2 linked regions of the Homo sapiens genome follow. The protein of the gene in region 1 purifies or fractionates together with the protein of each later gene. This does not show direct contact. Each region holds a gene or a part of one and is shown in the gene's direction. Other genes may lie near its edges.

Region 1 (9,249 bases):
TGGAGGGAAGTCAAGTCGAGTTTCTTTGCATGTCACTGGCCAATCCTCTTCCAACAAATTACACGTGGTACCACAATGGGAAAGAAATGCAGGGAAGGACAGAGGAGAAAGTCCACATCCCAAAGATCCTCCCCTGGCACGCTGGGACTTATTCCTGTGTGGCAGAAAACATTCTTGGTACTGGACAGAGGGGCCCGGGAGCTGAGCTGGATGTCCAGTGTGAGTAGCCACGGAGCCTCTGGTTCTAGGGAGAGAAGATGGACACAGGGAACGGGGAAGGCAGATGGGGTGCAGGGCATTCCGGGGTCCTGGAGTCAAGAGCAAGGAGCAGCCAGGGTCTCCTGTTCACAACTGCTGTCTCAGCTCCTAGCATAGGGCCTGGCTCATGGAGGGTGCTTGGTAGATGCTTGTTTTTTTGTGTTTTAGTTTTTTTTGAGATGGAGTCTCCCTCTGTCTCCCAGGCTGGAGTGCAGTGGCACAATCTCGGCTCACTGCAAGCTCCACCTTCCCGGGTTCATGCCATTCTCCTGTCTCAGCCTCCTGAGTAGCTGGGATGACAGGCGCCCGCCACCACGCCCGGCTAATTATTTGTACTTTTAGTAGAGACGGGGTTTCACCGTGTTAGCCAGGATGGTCTCGATCTCCTGACCTCGTGATCCACCCGCCTCGGCCTCCCAAAGTGCTGGGATTAGAGGCGTGAGCCACCGCACCCGGCCTGTAGATGCTTGTTGAATGAATGAGGCCAGGTGCGGTGGCTCCCGCCTGCAATCCCAGCTCTTTAGGAGGCTGAGGCAGGAGGGTCTCTTGAACCCAGGAGTTTGAAACCAGCCTGGGCCACACAGCGAGATACCATCTCTACAAAAAAATACAAAAATTAGCTGAGCATGGTGGTGCGTGCCTGTGGTCCCAGCTACTGGGGAGGCTGAGGAGGGAGAATCACTTGAGCCCAGGAAGTGAAGGCTGCAGACTGAACTATGTTCCTGCTACTGCACTCTAGCCTGGGTGACAGAGCAAGACCTGGGTCTCAAAAAGAAAAAGAAAATGCTGGGACTGGGATTATAGGTGTGAGCTGGGCACAGTGGCTCACACTTGTAATCCCAGCACTTTGGGAGGCCAAGGTAGGCAGCTCACTTGAGGCCACGAGTTCAAGCCCAGCCTGGGCAACATGGTAAAACCCCATCTCTACAAAAAAAAATTAGCCTGGCATGGTCATGCATGCCTGTAGTCTCAGCTACCCAGGAGGCTGAGGTGGGAGGATCACCTGAGCCTGGAAGTAGAGGCTGCAGTGAGCCTGTGATCATGCCGCTGCACTCCAGCCTGGGTGACTGAGTGAGACCTTGTCTCAAAAAAAAGAATGGATTGGCCAGGCATGGTGGCTTACGCCTGTAATCCCAGCACTTTGGGAGGCCAAGGTGGGCAGATCACCTGAGGTCAGGAGTTCGAGACCAGCCTGGCCAACATGGCGAAACCCTGTCTCTACTAAAAATACAAAAAATTAGCCGGGCATGGTGGCAGGCACCTGAAATCCACCTACCTGGGAGGCTGAGGCAGGAGAATCGCTTGAACCCAGGAGGCAGAGGTTGCAATGAGCTGAGATCATGTCACTGCACTCTAGCCTGGGTAGAGTGAGATTCTGTCTCCAAAAAAAAAGAATAATTAACTGCAAGATACCAGGACTCCATGAGGGACACAGAGACTTAGCGTCCCTAGGCAGTGGCTGAGTCTTGAGAGATCTTGAAATTTTTAATGAGAACTGGGGCAAACTGTCTCATTACCTCTCCATTGTAAGACCCTTTTAACACAGTGAATCTTGTTACCATGTAGAGCACAGGACAAAAAGAACACATAAGCTCGATCCTTGGACCCTGAGATGTCATATGTGCTAACAGGACAGGGGTGCCCAAATCCTGAGCATCTCAGACAGCTGGATGCGTGACCACAGCAGCCACAGTGATGTTTGTGGAGTGTTTGCCACACGCCACACTCTGCTCTAAGGGAGTCATCTCATTTCCTTCTTGAAACAATTCCCAGGAGGTTAGGAACTCTCAGGACTCACCCCCCACCCACCCCGCACTGCCTCTTGTTTTTAAGATGGAGTCTCCCTCTGTTGCCCAGGCTGGAGTGCAGTGGCTTGATCTCGGCTCACTGCAACCTCCACCTCCCGGGTTCAAGCGATTCTCTTGCCTCGACCACCTGAGTAGCTGGGACTACAGACATGCACCAGCATGCATAGCTAATTTTTAAAATTTTTAGTAGAGACAGGGTTTTGCTGTGTTGGCCAGGTCTCGAACTCCTGACCTCAGGTGATCTGCCCACCTCAGCCTCCCAAAGTGCTGAAATTACAAGCGTGAGCCACCATGCCCGGCCTCAGGACCCCATTTGACAGACGTGTAAACTGAGACCTGCAGCCCATGCCCGTGCGCCTCTCAGCAGCCGTCTGGCTTCAGCGCTGTGCCCTGAACCCCTGCACCAAACCACAGCCAGGCCAGAGAGCCAGGGCAGGGTTTCTGTTCTCACACAGATGCAGGAAGGACGCACAAGCCCCCCTTTGATTAATTTAGGACCTGTGCAGATGCCCGGGACAGGTAGCGGGAGAAGAGGAAGCAGGAGGGAAGGGGTACTGTGGACAGCTGGCTTTTCTTTACTCACCTCTCTGGTTTTCTTCCAGATCCTCCCAAGAAGGTGACCACAGTGATTCAAAACCCCATGCCGATTCGAGAAGGAGACACAGTGACCCTTTCCTGTAACTACAATTCCAGTAACCCCAGTGTTACCCGGTATGAATGGAAACCCCATGGCGCCTGGGAGGAGCCATCGCTTGGGGTGCTGAAGATCCAAAACGTTGGCTGGGACAACACAACCATCGCCTGCGCAGCTTGTAATAGTTGGTGCTCGTGGGCCTCCCCTGTCGCCCTGAATGTCCAGTGTGAGTCCCTGGGCTAGGCAGGGGGATCTGGGAGGTGGCCCGGCTGGGATGAGGGGATGAAGGCAACGAGGCCGGAGCCTGGGCCAGTGTCTTCAACAGAATTGAGGGACAGGAGCCTGGCGTCAGGGCCAAGGGGAGGGGAGGCCTGGGGACAGCAAAAGGGACAGGGAGCGGAGAGGTCAGCTTGGGACCCTTGCCCTCCAGATGCCCCCCGAGACGTGAGGGTCCGGAAAATCAAGCCCCTTTCCGAGATTCACTCTGGAAACTCGGTCAGCCTCCAATGTGACTTCTCAAGCAGCCACCCCAAAGAAGTCCAGTTCTTCTGGGAGAAAAATGGCAGGCTTCTGGGGAAAGAAAGCCAGCTGAATTTTGACTCCATCTCCCCAGAAGATGCTGGGAGTTACAGCTGCTGGGTGAACAACTCCATAGGACAGACAGCGTCCAAGGCCTGGACACTTGAAGTGCTGTGTGAGTGAGGGCCGGAGGCTGGGAGTGGAGCAGAGAAGGGACCAGTGGCCTGCCTGGTAGTGACTTCGCACCCCCTCCCCCTGCCCGCCATGCAGATGCACCCAGGAGGCTGCGTGTGTCCATGAGCCCGGGGGACCAAGTGATGGAGGGGAAGAGTGCAACCCTGACCTGTGAGAGCGACGCCAACCCTCCCGTCTCCCACTACACCTGGTTTGACTGGAATAACCAAAGCCTCCCCTACCACAGCCAGAAGCTGAGATTGGAGCCGGTGAAGGTCCAGCACTCGGGTGCCTACTGGTGCCAGGGGACCAACAGTGTGGGCAAGGGCCGTTCGCCTCTCAGCACCCTCACCGTCTACTGTAAGGCCTCTTCCTGCTCTTGTTCTTCTTGGTGGTGGTCAGTCCTTCCTTCCTTCCTTCCTTCCTTCCTTCCTTCCTTCCTTCCTTCCTTTCTTTCTCTCTTTCTTTTCCTCCTCCTCTTCTTCCCCTCCTCCTCCTCTTCCTCCTTCTTCTTCTTCTTCTGCTTTCTCCCTCTCCTCCTCCTCTTTCTTCTCCTTCTCCTTCCTTCTTCTTCTTCTTATAGAGACAAGGTCTTACTCTGTCACCCAGGCTGGAGTGCAGTCGCATAATGACACCTCACTGCAGCCTCCAATTCCTGGGCTCAAGCAATCCTTTCGCCTCAGCCTCCTGAGTAGCTGGGACTATAGACATGCACCACCACATCCGGCTAATTTTTACATTTTTGTAGAGATGGGGTCTTACTATGTTGACCAGGCTGGTTTCAAACTCCTGACCTCAAGTGACCCTTCTGCCTCAGCTTCCCAAAGCCCTGGGATTAGAGCCATGAGCCACTGTGCCTCTCCCTGTTTCCTCTCATGCTCCTCTCTGGCCCTGTCTCCTCCAGTGACTTCCCGAAAAGCCTTCCAGACCAGCTGGCCCCTTCTTCCCCACCTCACTGTCCCCTTTCCCATTCACACCCCTTGCTCCAGGCCATCTGCCGCTGTGCTGGAGGAGTCGTCTTGTCCTGCGTCACCAGTCTCTCTTTTTCTACCTCCCCTGCAGTCTCTCCTGCCTCCCTCTAGGGTCCCCTCTCAGGCTGCTCCACCTTCCAGAAGTCCTGAGCTCCTACTGGGTCCCTGTCTCTCTCTCTCTGACTACTCTGTCTCTCTCAGCCCTGACAGGCTCCTTGTTTTTATCTTTTAAAACGTAAATGATTTTTTTTTTAAACGGAGTCTCGATCTGTCACCCAGGCTGGAGTGCAGTGGCGTGATCACGGCTCACTGCAAGCTCTGCCTCCCGGGTTCACGCCATTCTCCTGCCTCAGCTCCCCGAGTAGCTGGGACTACAGGCGCCTGCCACCATGCCCGGCTAATTTTTTGTATTTTTAGTAGAGATGTGGTTTCACCGTGGTCTCAGTCTCCTGACCTCGTGATCCGCTCGCCTCGGCCTTCCAAAGTGCTGGGATTACAGGCGTGAGCCACCGCACCCGGCTGATTTTTTTTTTTTTTTTTTGAGACAGGGTCTCACCCTGTTGCACAGGTTGGAGTGCAGTGGCACAATCTCAGCTCCTGCAGCCTCGACCCCCTAGGCTCAAGTGATACTCCTGCCTCGGCCTCCACAGTAGTAAACTTGAGTGGTTTTTAAACAGATCATACAAGCACCTGGTAAAAAAATAAAATGTAAGCATGAAAGGGTAAATAGTGGAAAGACAGACGCGGCTCACTCTTGATCCCTGAGAACTCTCATCCCCACCAAAGGTCCTCACTGCACACAGTCTTCCCATCTCACTGCACACAGTCTTCCCATCTCCTCCAGGGGTATTTTTCACACGCACAATTCACACACAGAGGTCTGTGCCTATATACCCTTCCTCATGACACAGACGAGGCAGAGCCCACACTTTGCCTGGGAATTTTCTTTGCTTTTTTCCATGTAATAATACTGTTTGGACATTGTTCTGTATCTATGCATACACAGAGTGTCTAAAGTCTGGAGGCTGGGCATGGTGGTTCATGCCTGTAATCCCAACACTTTGAGAGGCCATGGTGGGAGGATCACTTGAGCCCAGGAGTTTGAGACCAGCCTGGGCAACATAGCCCACACCTCATAGCAGGATCTCATCTCTACAAAAAATACCAAAAAAAATTTTAAAAACGAACAAACAAAACAATAACAACAACAAAAAAGAGTCTGAAAGCATATGGAAGATACCTAATTAATTTATTGTACTTTTTCAGATTAATAATTGGAAACATGGCCTTAAATTGAGGGAACCTGACCAGGCACAGTGGCTCACGCCTGTAATCCCAGCACTTTGGGAGGCCAAAGTGGGTGGCCACAAGCACTTTGGGAGGCCACAAGGTGGGTGGATCACTTGAGGCCAGGAGTTCCAGACCAGCCTGGCCAATGGTGAAACCCCATCTCTACTAAAAATACAAAAATTAGCTGGGTGTGGTGGCGCGCACCTGTAGTCCCAACTACTCGGGAGGCTGAGGCAGGAGAATCGCTTGAACCCGGGAGGCAGAGGTTGCAGTGAGCCAAGATCTCACCACTGCACTCCAGCCTGGGTGAAAGAGCGAGACTCTGTCTCAATCAATCAATCAGTCAATCTAGGGAACCATCACCAGCACGGCCGAAGGCCAAAGGAAAACATCTGAAACATGTTATCTGGAAATGTAACAGACACATCCCATCATATAAAACCATTGTTCCCTGGGTATCCCCTTTGCAGACAGCCTGAGAGCCTCCTCTTTTTCCTGGGGCCATGGAGTCCTCGCGTATGAAGGTTGCATACATCCTCCTCCCAGTGCCCTCTTCAGGGCCTAGGTCTGCAGCCTCTTGTTTTGGGCACGCCTGCAAGGACAGTTGCAAGATGCATTCCCATGTGGAATTGCTGGGTGGAAGACAGGTGCACTTTCAGAGCTGATCACACAGCTATACTGCCGTGAAGAGCTGCACCCATTTATGCGGGTGCGGGTCACAGGCTCTGGGCGTGCCACGTCTGTGGGAAAAGCAGCTCCTCAGGAGAATTAGTGCCTTATTCCTAAAGGGAGGCCCAGAGCAAGCAGGGGCCGTTGTCACCCTCTTCCTCTGCACCCCTGCACGCATGCAGGGGAGAAGGACGAGTCTGGCTGCAGAGAGAAGTCCAGGATGCCTTCCAGGCAAAGGCTGCCAGGGAGAGCTGGCCCCTCAGTTGATTAAGGTCTCTCCTTTCTCCACCCAGATAGCCCGGAGACCATCGGCAGGCGAGTGGCTGTGGGACTCGGGTCCTGCCTCGCCATCCTCATCCTGGCAATCTGTGGGCTCAAGCTCCAGCGACGGTGAGCTCCTGCCATCCCCCACCACCTCCTCTATCCCTTGGCAGAGGCCCGTGTCCAGTTGCTCCATCTCGAAGCCTCCAGCCTGTGGAGTCCCTGACCCTCACACATGTGCCTTTATTTCTCAGTTGGAAGAGGACACAGAGCCAGCAGGGGCTTCAGGAGAATTCCAGCGGCCAGAGCTTCTTTGTGAGGAATAAAAAGGTAGGATGGGGCTGGGCACGATGGCTCATGCCTGTAATCCCAGCACTTTGGGAGGCTGAGGCAGGTGGATCACCTGAGGTCAGGAGTTCGAGACCAGCGTAGCCAACATGGTGAAACCCTGTCTCTACAAAAAATATTTTAAAAATTAGCCGGGCGTGATGGTCCATGCCTGTAATTCCAGCTACTCGGGAGGCTGAGGCAGGAGAATCGCTTGAACCTGGGAGGCAGAGGTTGCAGTGAGCCAAGATTGCGCCATTGCACTCCAGCCTGGGTGACATACTGAGACTCTGCCTCAAAAAAAAAAAAAAAAAAAAAAAAAGGGTAGGCATGAGGCAGACTGTGAAGCTGAGTGGGGAAACAAGGTGAAGGAAGGGGATAAAATGTCCTCTGAGGAGACCTGGGCTGTCAGAGGCCAGGGAAGGGGACGAGGGTTGGGGAACAGGTGGTTAGCACTTCATCCTCGTCTCCCTCCCAGGTTAGAAGGGCCCCCCTCTCTGAAGGCCCCCACTCCCTGGGATGCTACAATCCAATGATGGAAGATGGCATTAGCTACACCACCCTGCGCTTTCCCGAGATGAACATACCACGAACTGGGTACTGAGGGTACCAGGAGGGTGACCCTGCACCCTGGGAGGGAGGCGGGAGGAAAAGCTCTGTCCCGCCTGCCCTCTTTGTGCCAGGCCCATGCCAGGCACCCTGATACATGCTCTGCCTCATTCCCACTCGGCAACAAGCCTCTGGGTAAGGGCCAGTCTCCAGAAGTGGACCTGCTCCTTCAAGTCAGCAGCACACATGCCCAGTCCGTTCTTATCACAAAGATCAAGACCTCATGATACACACCCACGCCTACTCCCTCCACGCACATTTGCACGAGCTCCTACTGTGAGCTTTGGGCACTGGGGAGGCCACAGGTTTTACATAAGGGGCTGAGGTTGGGGTGCTGTTGGGGGCTCTGGGTGTTGAGAGGGAGGAGAGTTCGTGGGAGATGCTTCATGCGTGGTCGTCTATCTGCCCTGTCTCTCAGAGATGCAGAGTCCTCAGAGATGCAGAGACCTCCCCCGGACTGCGATGACACGGTCACTTATTCAGCATTGCACAAGCGCCAAGTGGTAAGGAGGGTCTCCCCAGGTCTCCCCAGAGGGGCTGTGGAAGGCTGGGGACAGGGCCTGGCCTCAGTGGTGGGTCCCACATAGGAAGGAGTTGGGTAGGCATCCGTGGTGGCAGAGGTTGGGTGTTGGAGACGGTTGCTCCGGCAGAGCTGGCCAGAGCCAGGCAGGTACCTCCAGGTCCTGGATGCCGGCCACAGCCAGTTTCCTGACACGAGGACACCCGCCTGGGCTTTTGGACCCCCGGGTGGAATGAAGGAGAGAATGCGGAGAAAAGCGGCGGTGGAGGCTGGCGACAGTGGGGCCAGGCTAACCACCATGCGGTTTTCTCAGGGCGACTATGAGAACGTCATTCCAGATTTTCCAGAAGATGAGGGGATTCATTACTCAGAGCTGATCCAGTTTGGGGTCGGGGAGCGGCCTCAGGCACAAGAAAATGTGGACTATGTGATCCTCAAACATTGACACTGGATGGGCTGCAGCAGAGGCACTGGGGGCAGCGGGGGCCAGGGAAGTCCCCGAGTTTCCCCAGACACCGCCACATGGCTTCCTCCTGCGCGCATGTGCGCACACACACACACACACGCACACACACACACACACACTCACTGCGGAGAACCTTGTGCCTGGCTCAGAGCCAGTCTTTTTGGTGAGGGTAACCCCAAACCTCCAAAACTCCTGCCCCTGTTCTCTTCCACTCTCCTTGCTACCCAGAAATCCATCTAAATACCTGCCCTGACATGCACACCTCCCCCTGCCCCCACCACGGCCACTGGCCATCTCCACCCCCAGCTGCTTGTGTCCCTCCTGGGATCTGCTCGTCATCATTTTTCCTTCCCTTCTCCATCTCTCTGGCCCTCTACCCCTGATCTGACATCCCCACTCACGAATATTATGCCCAGTTTCTGCCTCTGAGGGAAAGCCCAGAAAAGGACAGAAACGAAGTAGAAAGGGGCCCAGTCCTGGCCTGGCTTCTCCTTTGGAAGTGAGGCATTGCACGGGGAGACGTACGTATCAGCGGCCCCTTGACTCTGGGGACTCCGGGTTTGAGATGGACACACTGGTGTGGATTAACCTGCCAGGGAGACAGAGCTCACAATAAAAATGGCTCAGATGCCACTTCAAAGAACCAGTGAACTCTTTTCAGTCTGTGGAGTCAGAGTGGGGATGAGGAGAGGGGAAAGTCTTCATGGGGCCTGGGGGGAAGGAAATGGAGTCACAGTGGTTTA
Region 2 (9,249 bases), on another chromosome or scaffold:
ATTATTTATTTTTCTTTTTTAGCAACAAATGAGTTGGATTCTATGTTTCATTTTAACGTGTTAAAATTAGTTTAGTGCCTACAGGAAATAATAAACTTTTGGGGAACAAAATTTATATTGTATGCTGTAAAGGCATAAAGAAATAGAGCCAAATGTAGAGAGCCATCAATGGTAACTCTATGCATAATTCAAATATTTTATTTAATATCTAAAATGCACACACGGACAAGGCCAAAGTTAATCTTTGCCACGGCAACAACCAGGCAGGGTTCAGTTTTACTCAAGACTTCCTAATCCTCTTGCTCTGTGCCTCTTTGCCATGGCAACTGGAAGCCAAACTTTGTTTAGAATTTCTAAATAATGTTAGGGGACAATGATGGTTTTAAGAAGGCAGGTGAAGGTGAGTGTTCTCTGGTTCTAATAAAGTTGTAATGCCAGGCAGATCTACCACACTATAGCATGGCAGTTAGGAGTATATGAGTTATGGTATGTGAGGTATATGATGAGTTTTGTTATGAGTCATAACAGTTAAGACTCATTTCCTGGACATAATTCTTCATTTTTCCATCTGTATTAAAAATATATATCTCATGTTATAAACATGGACTGTGCCTTGCACATCACAGACATTCAATGAAAATTATTTAATTGAATTTGGTAAGCAGTCCTATTAAGTTCTAAATACTCCATAATTTAGAGATTTGGGAATGTGATTAGAATTACTTATTAATTTGAAAAAAAATGTCCTACTAAAAACCTGCCTGTGACCTTTATCATTGCTAAAGTTTGAAATGTACTTTGTTACAGGAAAGACTACGGCTAGGGCCTATATTATCTTTTTCTCTTTTGTTCTGTGTAAGTAAGTATAGGGGCAGAGTAGTTAGCTTGAACTTAGTTCTTTCTTTGTTCTGGACTATTTGCTATCCTCTCACCAGTGACAATTAACCAGTATAGAAATATAGATGTTTCTACATTGTTCATATACTTGAACATATATTTCTTTATGTAGATACTCACACATAAACTAGTTATATATTTGTGGGTTATATATACTAGTCAATCTATCTATCTGTCTATCTATCTATCTATCTATCTATCTATCAGTTCTCCATGTTTGTCTATTTGGCGTTCCCATGAACTTCAGACCTTCGCCTGTGTTCTCTTTTCTCCATTTGGTTACGTATCATTGCCTACTATGTGTTGATCACTCTGATTCTCCATCTCTAGACTCATCCCTCAGAAACACGGAACTTACTACCTTTCCTAAATCCAGACATTAACATGCTCCCCAAGTCCTGAAATTTTGCTTTGTAATAATCTCTAATAACTTCTTGCTTTGACACCTCCATTGCCATCATCTTAATTCATGGCTTTATTATTTCTCACCTGTAAAATTGTAATAGTTTTTTTAATCAGTCTGAAGTCTCATCCTTTTTTTAATGTAATCTACAGCTTAAAAAGTAAAATAAAAAGTGAAGGGTTACTGATTTCTTCTCATTGCCTTTGGTATAAATTCTAATCTTTTTTGCCAGAGAAACTGGTTCCACTAATGATCTGGGGGCTAGGCCTGGAGCTGGGAAGGGATCTTTTTTCTTTTCTTTCTTTCTTCCTTTCTTTCTTTCTTTCTTTCTTTCTTTCTTTCTTTCTTTCTTTCTTTCTTTCTTTCTTTCTTTTTTCTTTCTTTTTCTTCTATGATTGATTAAAAGAAAACAAACAGGAGGTAGTTTTAACACCCACCTCTATACTTTCTCAAGGTGTTTAAGGTTCTGGGCAAATCCTACTTCTTCTATTATGTTCTCTTATGTCACTTTTGCCACAAAATATTTCCATTGAATTGCACACTTTTTATCACCTTTTCTTGGCATTTTTCAAGTCATTTCAATCTGCTCTTTTTTGTGATGATGATTGATGATGATGATGACATGTGAATTAGTGGATTTCTTGACATTGTAACCTACATGAAATCAGGTATAGGAGACACAAAAGGCATAAACTCATAGTTCCCATACCTAATTTTTCACCAGACACTGAATAAATCATAGATTAAAAAAATAAAACTGCATATTGTAGTGACAAAGGAAAGGAAAATTTTCAAAGAGGGAAGTCAAAAAGAGGGAGAATATGAGATAAAAAAATTAACCAGAGGCGAAGTGGGAGGATGAAGACAGCAGGACTATTTTGTCCAGATTAAATTAAGTTGATTTTGGATCTAGATGTTTACAGTCTTGCCTTTTTGTTTTTGTTTGTTTGTTTGTTTGTTTTTTCTTTGCTCCCTTTCTTACTCTCCTTATCTCACCTCTCGTCTGGAAAGAGCCTCCTGACTTCCTAAAAGTTCATAGTTTGAGAATGTTTTTCCTAAATTTTCTTTGATCTGCTCTTTGGACATTCTAGGTAATGTAATTTGGAGGGTCAATTTTATTTTTCAGATACACATACCCATAGGAGAAAAAGCAAGGAATGGGAGGGAAATACAAATGTAGCGGAGTGATAACACAAACAGATCAGGTCCAGTCATGGCAATTGCTGGTTTGAACACTGATGCTAGTGCTCTGGGATTGCTTGCAAGGGCAGATGGAATATGGTGCACCCTAGGTGTTGCATTATTTGCACGACAAAAGTTTGTAGAGAGCTGGGAATAATTTCTTTACAGACAGTGTGGTGATGAATGTCAATCTGAGTAGGTAAGGGGCAGAGATTTGTACTGAGGTTGATTCATTCTCTTGGTAAATACACAATGTTCACAAAGGCAAGGTTTCATCTTCAGACCATGTGTGTATATGTCACCTTGGTGCAGAGAGAGAAATTTTTCATCAGTGCTGACCTTTGATTTTTTTTTCTAGACATCTTATAGATTTATGTAGTTATTTACATGGGAAACAATTAGAATGGAAATTTAACATATCTTCAGTTTAAAATTAATTTCTGTCTAGTCTAAATATCTTTGTAAGTACTAGATACTCAATCCCATAGCAGTGGCCTTTTACCAAAGGCTTAGTGCTATGACTTTTGCATACATAAAGACCTCACTTTTTAAGATATGATACACCAGAAAAAAAATATGGCAAGACTTTAGCAATATGATTTGATGCCTATTTCTATATAATACCCAAATATACAGGAATAAAAATTATGGCAATCACTGGATTTTGTGTACCTGGCTCTAACCAATATTTATATTAGAAAATATCTAATTATTGTCTAAAATATTTAATCTTCATTCCTGTTTGTATGTCAGTGTGCTACTTCAATATCAGTCTGTTAAAAGAGTCTAGGAATGACTACTATAAGCAGAGAATTATATGTTCAGGAATCACAACAAAAAACAAGAACAAATAGAGAAACAAAAGCTTTCCTACTCTTTCATCTAGGACAAGAATAAATACACATAAAGTCAATATTAGTGAAGTAAACAAGCATCTTCTATATCCATTCATAGTACCTTCAATTGATTGATTTCTTAACAGACAATCAGCAAAATTATCAGTTTTTATTAGAGATTTTAGTAGAGACCGAGCTTAAACAAATATATTCTATGGTGCTTAACTCTATAGTATTTAAAGATTCAATATTTATTTCCTCTAAAAATGAGTCAAGTGTCTGAAAGGAAAAAGCCACCTAACTGAAACTTCAGTTTCTACTATACAGGGTATTTATTATAAAACTGTAATTACAATGCAATTATATTGAAGTATAAATGATCATCATTCATTTATTTAAGAATATAATCAAAATTTGCATACCTGGAAGAAAACCATCCACCCTCCAAAATAGGGATTTGCTAATGTAGGAGTAGAAGGCAAAAGTTGAGGGTAACTCAGGTAACACACTCATACGTATTAGGATATGAACAGCTGGTATAGCAAACTTGATAGAAATCACTGATAGACAAGAAGACATTCTCTGCATTTTAAATTAAAGTACAATTTGTCTGTGGTCATTCAAGAGATAGTTTAGAGAAACCTATACAAATAACAATGATGCTAAGAGACAATATCAAAATCACAATAAATATCATGGCAATACAGTGTGGCCACTATATTTTAAACACATCCACTTGATGAAAAATATAATAATTTACTGATAAAACATATTAAGCATAATAGAAAATGAGGCAGAAACCACTCCAAGCTGGGAAACATCATGACATCTGTAGTGATAAATATTTTGAAAATCTAACTCTATGAATCTTGTGATTTTTAGCTAAATCAATTTTCACCCTTGAGACCCAATTTCCTCATCTATAAAGTGTTGTAAGCATTAAAAGTTATAATATTTGTGAAAATGCTTTGAAATTATGTGATACTCTGAGAAGTAAATTTTTTCATGTGAGCCCATGAAATCAGAGCACATAGCCTTTTAGCATAAACTTGATTCCAAATGATATCTCTTCCTTTCAGACACTGTGAGCAGATAAAGGGATAGTTTAAGGTTAAGTGATAGAGGCATAATCCCTTATAGGCCTTTGAATTCTTTTAACTTTGCATTCTTTATTTCAGAGATTTTTCAGGCTTCTCCAGATTCTACAGTCTAAATAGTTTGTAAATCCACACACTTCTACTTTGCCAGGGATTTCTTAGTGTAAAAATATCCTGAAGTCTCACCTGCCTTCAATCCTTACTGTGTCCATACCCACCATTACCAGGATAATCTTTGTAAAAGGCAGAACTTACCTTTGTCCATTCCTCTTTTAAAAGCTCCTATTGGTAGAAAATATACTGAACCCGTGATTTGATACCAAGTATGTTTTGGCTCAACTTTTATGAAAACAAATATTTAATTAGAATATACCAACATTTATGAGTTTTCCTTAAAGATAAATTTTGGAGGAAAAAAACTCCATTAGACCAATTTAATTCCCTGATGATTATATATATATTACCTAGTGAAATCCTTGGCAGTTTTTCCATTTTAATTTTAATTTTACTGAACTAATGTTTAGCAGCATCACTTTCATTTAATTTTTACAATAACTATTAGATTCATGAATCCATTTTACCCATGTCAAGTTCTACTGAATATAGCTTATGCTTGGAATTTTCCTTTGTGATTATTACTTTTCTAAAGGTAATTCTTCTTTTCAAACAATACAGATCTAAATTTTCCAAAACCATTTAAATTCTTCTCTTTGGCCAGAAACATTTTCTGTGTGTAGTTTTGGCTACCGCTAGTTTAGTTTTTTTAATTGGTTTTGTGTCTCAATGCTACAAAAAATATAATTTATGTAATTTTTCATTTTTGTCAAACTTAAATCGGGCAATATTAACCATTCTCAATTTTTTGTTGTGTTGAAATTTCTATCAGTGACATTAATGTGGAGATTGACAGCTCTTTGAGCTAGATTCATTTTGAAATTTTAAGACTTTCGATTATTTCTTATCTAGCCAATAGAAACTTTAGAAACACTTTTAAGACTGCTTGATAGCCTGGAATTATTATGTTTGAATTCTCATTCATTTGTATGGTATTCCTCTTATTAGCTTTCACACTTAGTACCAATTTCTTATTCATTATTGGAGCAAAAAGTAAAGAGAAGAATCAAGGTGATAAGTTTAAAATCTTCTCAATGTAAAATAGTGTGTGGGGAAAGTGTCAAATCATCCTACTTTGGTCTTTGTGCATTTAGGAAAAATAAAAGCAATTAGCATTGCACACACATATGTAATTGAATCTCTTCAGATTTGTCTGGCTTTATCTCTAACCACTTTGTGACTCTTTTTGTAACTTGCATTTTTCTAAAAATGTGACCTTGTTTGGTCTTCCTACTGTTGGCCATGCTGTTTTTCCTTCTCTCCACATCTTTTTATCAATGGTGCAAATTATAAATTGTATTCAAATTTACTGTAAAGATCATGTCCTCTAGACAGCCCCTATCCCACTTGTATAACCCTTGCTCTTCAGCCCCTTTCACACCTGCATAGGTATTCTTCTGCTGTGATGATCCTTTGAATAATTCTCTTGGAGTTCTCTTTACCAGGCTCTCTTGCAGCAACTGGTGAGCTCATGTAGGCTATCACTGGGTCTCTGCTTATTTGCCAGTGCCTGCAGGTCCTCAGTACCTGTTTGCTGAACAAACGAATGGTCTGTCAGCTTAACCCAACTCTGTATGTAGAAGGCACTTAATAATTCTTAAAAACAATTTTGATTCTGTCCTTTTATTGTTATTTATGGGAATTATTTATGGTAAAAATTTCTACATAATAGAAAATTTGGAAAATGTCAAGAAATAGAAGGAAAAAGAAATTGCTTAGAGCCCATGCTAACATTTTGTTTTTCTTCCTCTATCTTTTGATCACATGCTGTGTATGAAATTTCATGTTCAATTTTTTCCCAAGTAAACCTTGATTATTCTAGACAATTTGAAAAATATAGAAATGAATAGAAAAATAAGAATTTCAGGTTTCCAGTTCTCAGGATCTAAAAACTTTTTGAGTATTTCATTTGACTAGGACAACTAGATCTATTCAGTTATTTATTAACTTATTAGTTCATTTGATAAACAACTATTTTGTGAGTGTTTTCCATGTAATTTGGGCTGAGGACACCTATCCCATGAAGCCCGTATTTTCTATCAGTGGCTTCTTGGAGATGGTGTTTTAAATCTTCCAAAATCTTCATCAGCACCCCAAAACTTCCTCCTCAAAGTAACAACATACCTTGCTACAGATAATTATTGGTGTTATCAATGTTTTATAAATTATAAATTTAAAAATCACTATCTTAAGATCTATATATAACATATTAAGTAAAACTTATATTCTTACAAGACTTCCTCCAGGTCCCTGTTACAACCAGATTTTCTTTGCAGACTTTTAAATTATGGAAGTTCTGGTGCTGCCACTGAGTTGTGTAGATTATTATTAGATATTCAATAAATAAAGTTGGTAGATGTGAAGAGGTACTAGACAATAGTCCTATTTTGTTTTGGTTTGTTTGTTTTGTAATTTATTCTGAAAAAATGTTTATGTGGAGAGAAAAGGGAAAACATACAGAAATACACAGCACACAAACAAATTCTTACTTTTTTTTGGTAGTCTTTCTAATTTTCCAAGGTCACCAGCTAATAGCAAATGAGAGTTGTAGGGGGTGGGGTGAAGGCTGGGGTCTTAATCGGGGTCTATCTGATTCTAGATAGACCAGATTCTAGATTTTCCACTCGGTTACTCAATCTTCTTAGTGGTCAGTTTAATAACCTGGAATTTAAGACATGACTGTGTGATGATGGGCAAATCACAGCAGGACTGAATGGGAGCTGGTAATTTCTCAGAGGTTGTTTGTGTGACATATGCATGTAAGTTCATTCACCTGATTTAGCTACTTACATGAACCATTGTGCACTGAGCTGCTTCTATATCTTTAGCATATTCTGTATCTATGTAAAATTCACATAAGATTGTATGACTTTTATAAAAAACAAAAAGACATCTTTGATTAATTTGTCTTCACTATGAATACTGATGTGATGTGTTACAATCATCCTGAAAAGGAGGCTAACAAAGGACAGGACTGAGTCTGTCTTGAGGTGAGTGATATGATGGAAAGAATGGATTTTCCCCCACCCAACTCATTTTTGATATTACATAAAGTGAAAAACATTAAATAATTCACCAAAGTATCTAGATTTTTTTTTGTTTTTGAAGTGCAAGGGAAGTAACTTGACCTTTGTTAAACACTTTGATCATGGAAAACACATAAGGTTCTCATCTTATTCCAGGAAGTGTAGACACTAGATAATCTTTTCATAGTCATCCAAAAAGCATATTAAGTGAACCAGGTAAATCCATCCTACACTTTTTATTCCAGAGACAAGTTGGCTAAACTTTGAGGAGACTAAAACAAAACAAAAAAAAATTATTGTTTGGTTCATTTGATAAATGTGGATTCCAATCATATAATTTAGGCCAAATATTATACTTTGACTTCTTAGACTTAGATTTCCAGATAGTCTGGTTTATAAAATAAGATTTTAACTATGCTTACTAAACTCTATGTATTTCTACTTTCCAATGACCCATGTTCTTATTTTCTGAATTTACTTATTGATGCTTTAGGTATGATAAAGGTATGTAATGGCTAAGGAAACATAAATGAAGCATAAGACATCAGTTGAGAGTTTTGACGGAAAGGAAGTGGTGATATGAAGGAAACAGATAAACCAAAGAAAAAGGAAAAGGTCAGGGAGCTGATAAAAGTAACTTGAAGAAACTTTAGTGCAAATGTTGGATTCAGACAATCGCTACTTTTAAAGTACTTAAAGAAGTCAGTCTTTGAAATCTTGCCCGGATTCCATTCCAGTTTCATCATTGGAGACTTCCAATGATGAAAAATTGGGGAAGAATTACCTTCCAAAGCCTCAGTTTCCTCGTGTGTAAAATGGAAATAATAGCAAGAGATATTAAATGAGATGATTCACTCATCGATTCATCAATTGTTTATAGAGCCCCTGCTAAGCTAAAAACTGTTTTAAGTGTTGACACAGTGGTAAAGAAAGCAGAAAGTGTAACTACTTTTATGAAACTGACTTCCTAGTGGTGAGAGATAACAAGAAAACAAACAACAAATTGAGATAACTTCAGTTATAGATAAATGCTGTGAAGAAAATTAAGTAGTGTAATATGGTAGAGTTTAATCTGGCCAGACCCAGATTTAGGGGTGAATGCACTTTTAGACAGAGTGATCGGGGAAGATCCTTATGAAGAAGAATCATTGAGCTACCTGTTGGCTGACAAGAATATGGGGATCCATGTGAGGGAGACTGGCAAGAGTAAAGGTTATCTGGCAAAACCAAACAAATTGGTAGGTTCGAGGCACAGAAAGGTCAGGCATCTGTAGTATGGTGAGTAAGAACTGAGCAGGTTGTGGTGAGGCTAGAAAGATAAGCAGAAGGCAGGTCCCACAGGGCCTTGATGGAAATGGAAAGAGCTTGAATTTTACCTGAAGTATAAAGGGAAGGAACCATTTTAAGTTCTTAAGTACAGAATAACCTAATCTTCTTTCTGTGTTGAAGAGATCACTTTGACTGTTATGAAGAGAATAGATTGGAAGTAAGGCAAAGCCTGGAAGCAGTTATGAGGAGACTGAATGGGAGGATGGAGAAAGGGGATGGTGATCTGGACCAAGTGTTGGCAGTGCAGGTGGAAAGAAAGGAAAGACTGACATAGAATTAAGAGAAGTGGCTGCATGGAAAAGACAAAGACATTTTAGAGAATGACTTTTTTTCCCCATGAGCACTGGGATGGGAAAGAGCCAAAT

Evidence for each region.
Region 2: the proteins of CD22 (region 1) and PTPRC purify together in Homo sapiens (affinity purification with western blotting; 2 studies listed by BioGRID and IntAct, with this or other methods). This does not show direct contact.

The regions. Positions count from the first base shown.
Region 1 is NC_000019.10:35,338,213-35,347,461, forward strand, and holds the end of CD22 (B-cell receptor CD22 isoform 1 precursor), read left to right. Parts: coding exon 1-219; intron 220-2,668; coding exon 2,669-2,926; intron 2,927-3,130; coding exon 3,131-3,394; intron 3,395-3,489; coding exon 3,490-3,753; intron 3,754-6,616; coding exon 6,617-6,713; intron 6,714-6,838; coding exon 6,839-6,914; intron 6,915-7,300; exon of another isoform or gene 7,301-7,389; coding exon 7,390-7,508; intron 7,509-7,938; coding exon 7,939-8,023; intron 8,024-8,353; coding exon 8,354-8,485; 3' UTR 8,486-9,149; downstream 9,150-9,249. UniProt on the Homo sapiens protein: Most highly expressed siglec (sialic acid-binding immunoglobulin-like lectin) on B-cells that plays a role in various aspects of B-cell biology including differentiation, antigen presentation, and trafficking to bone marrow.
Region 2 is NC_000001.11:198,641,299-198,650,547, forward strand, and holds part of PTPRC (receptor-type tyrosine-protein phosphatase C isoform 1 precursor), read left to right. Parts: intron 1-9,249. UniProt on the Homo sapiens protein: Protein tyrosine-protein phosphatase required for T-cell activation through the antigen receptor. Acts as a positive regulator of T-cell coactivation upon binding to DPP4.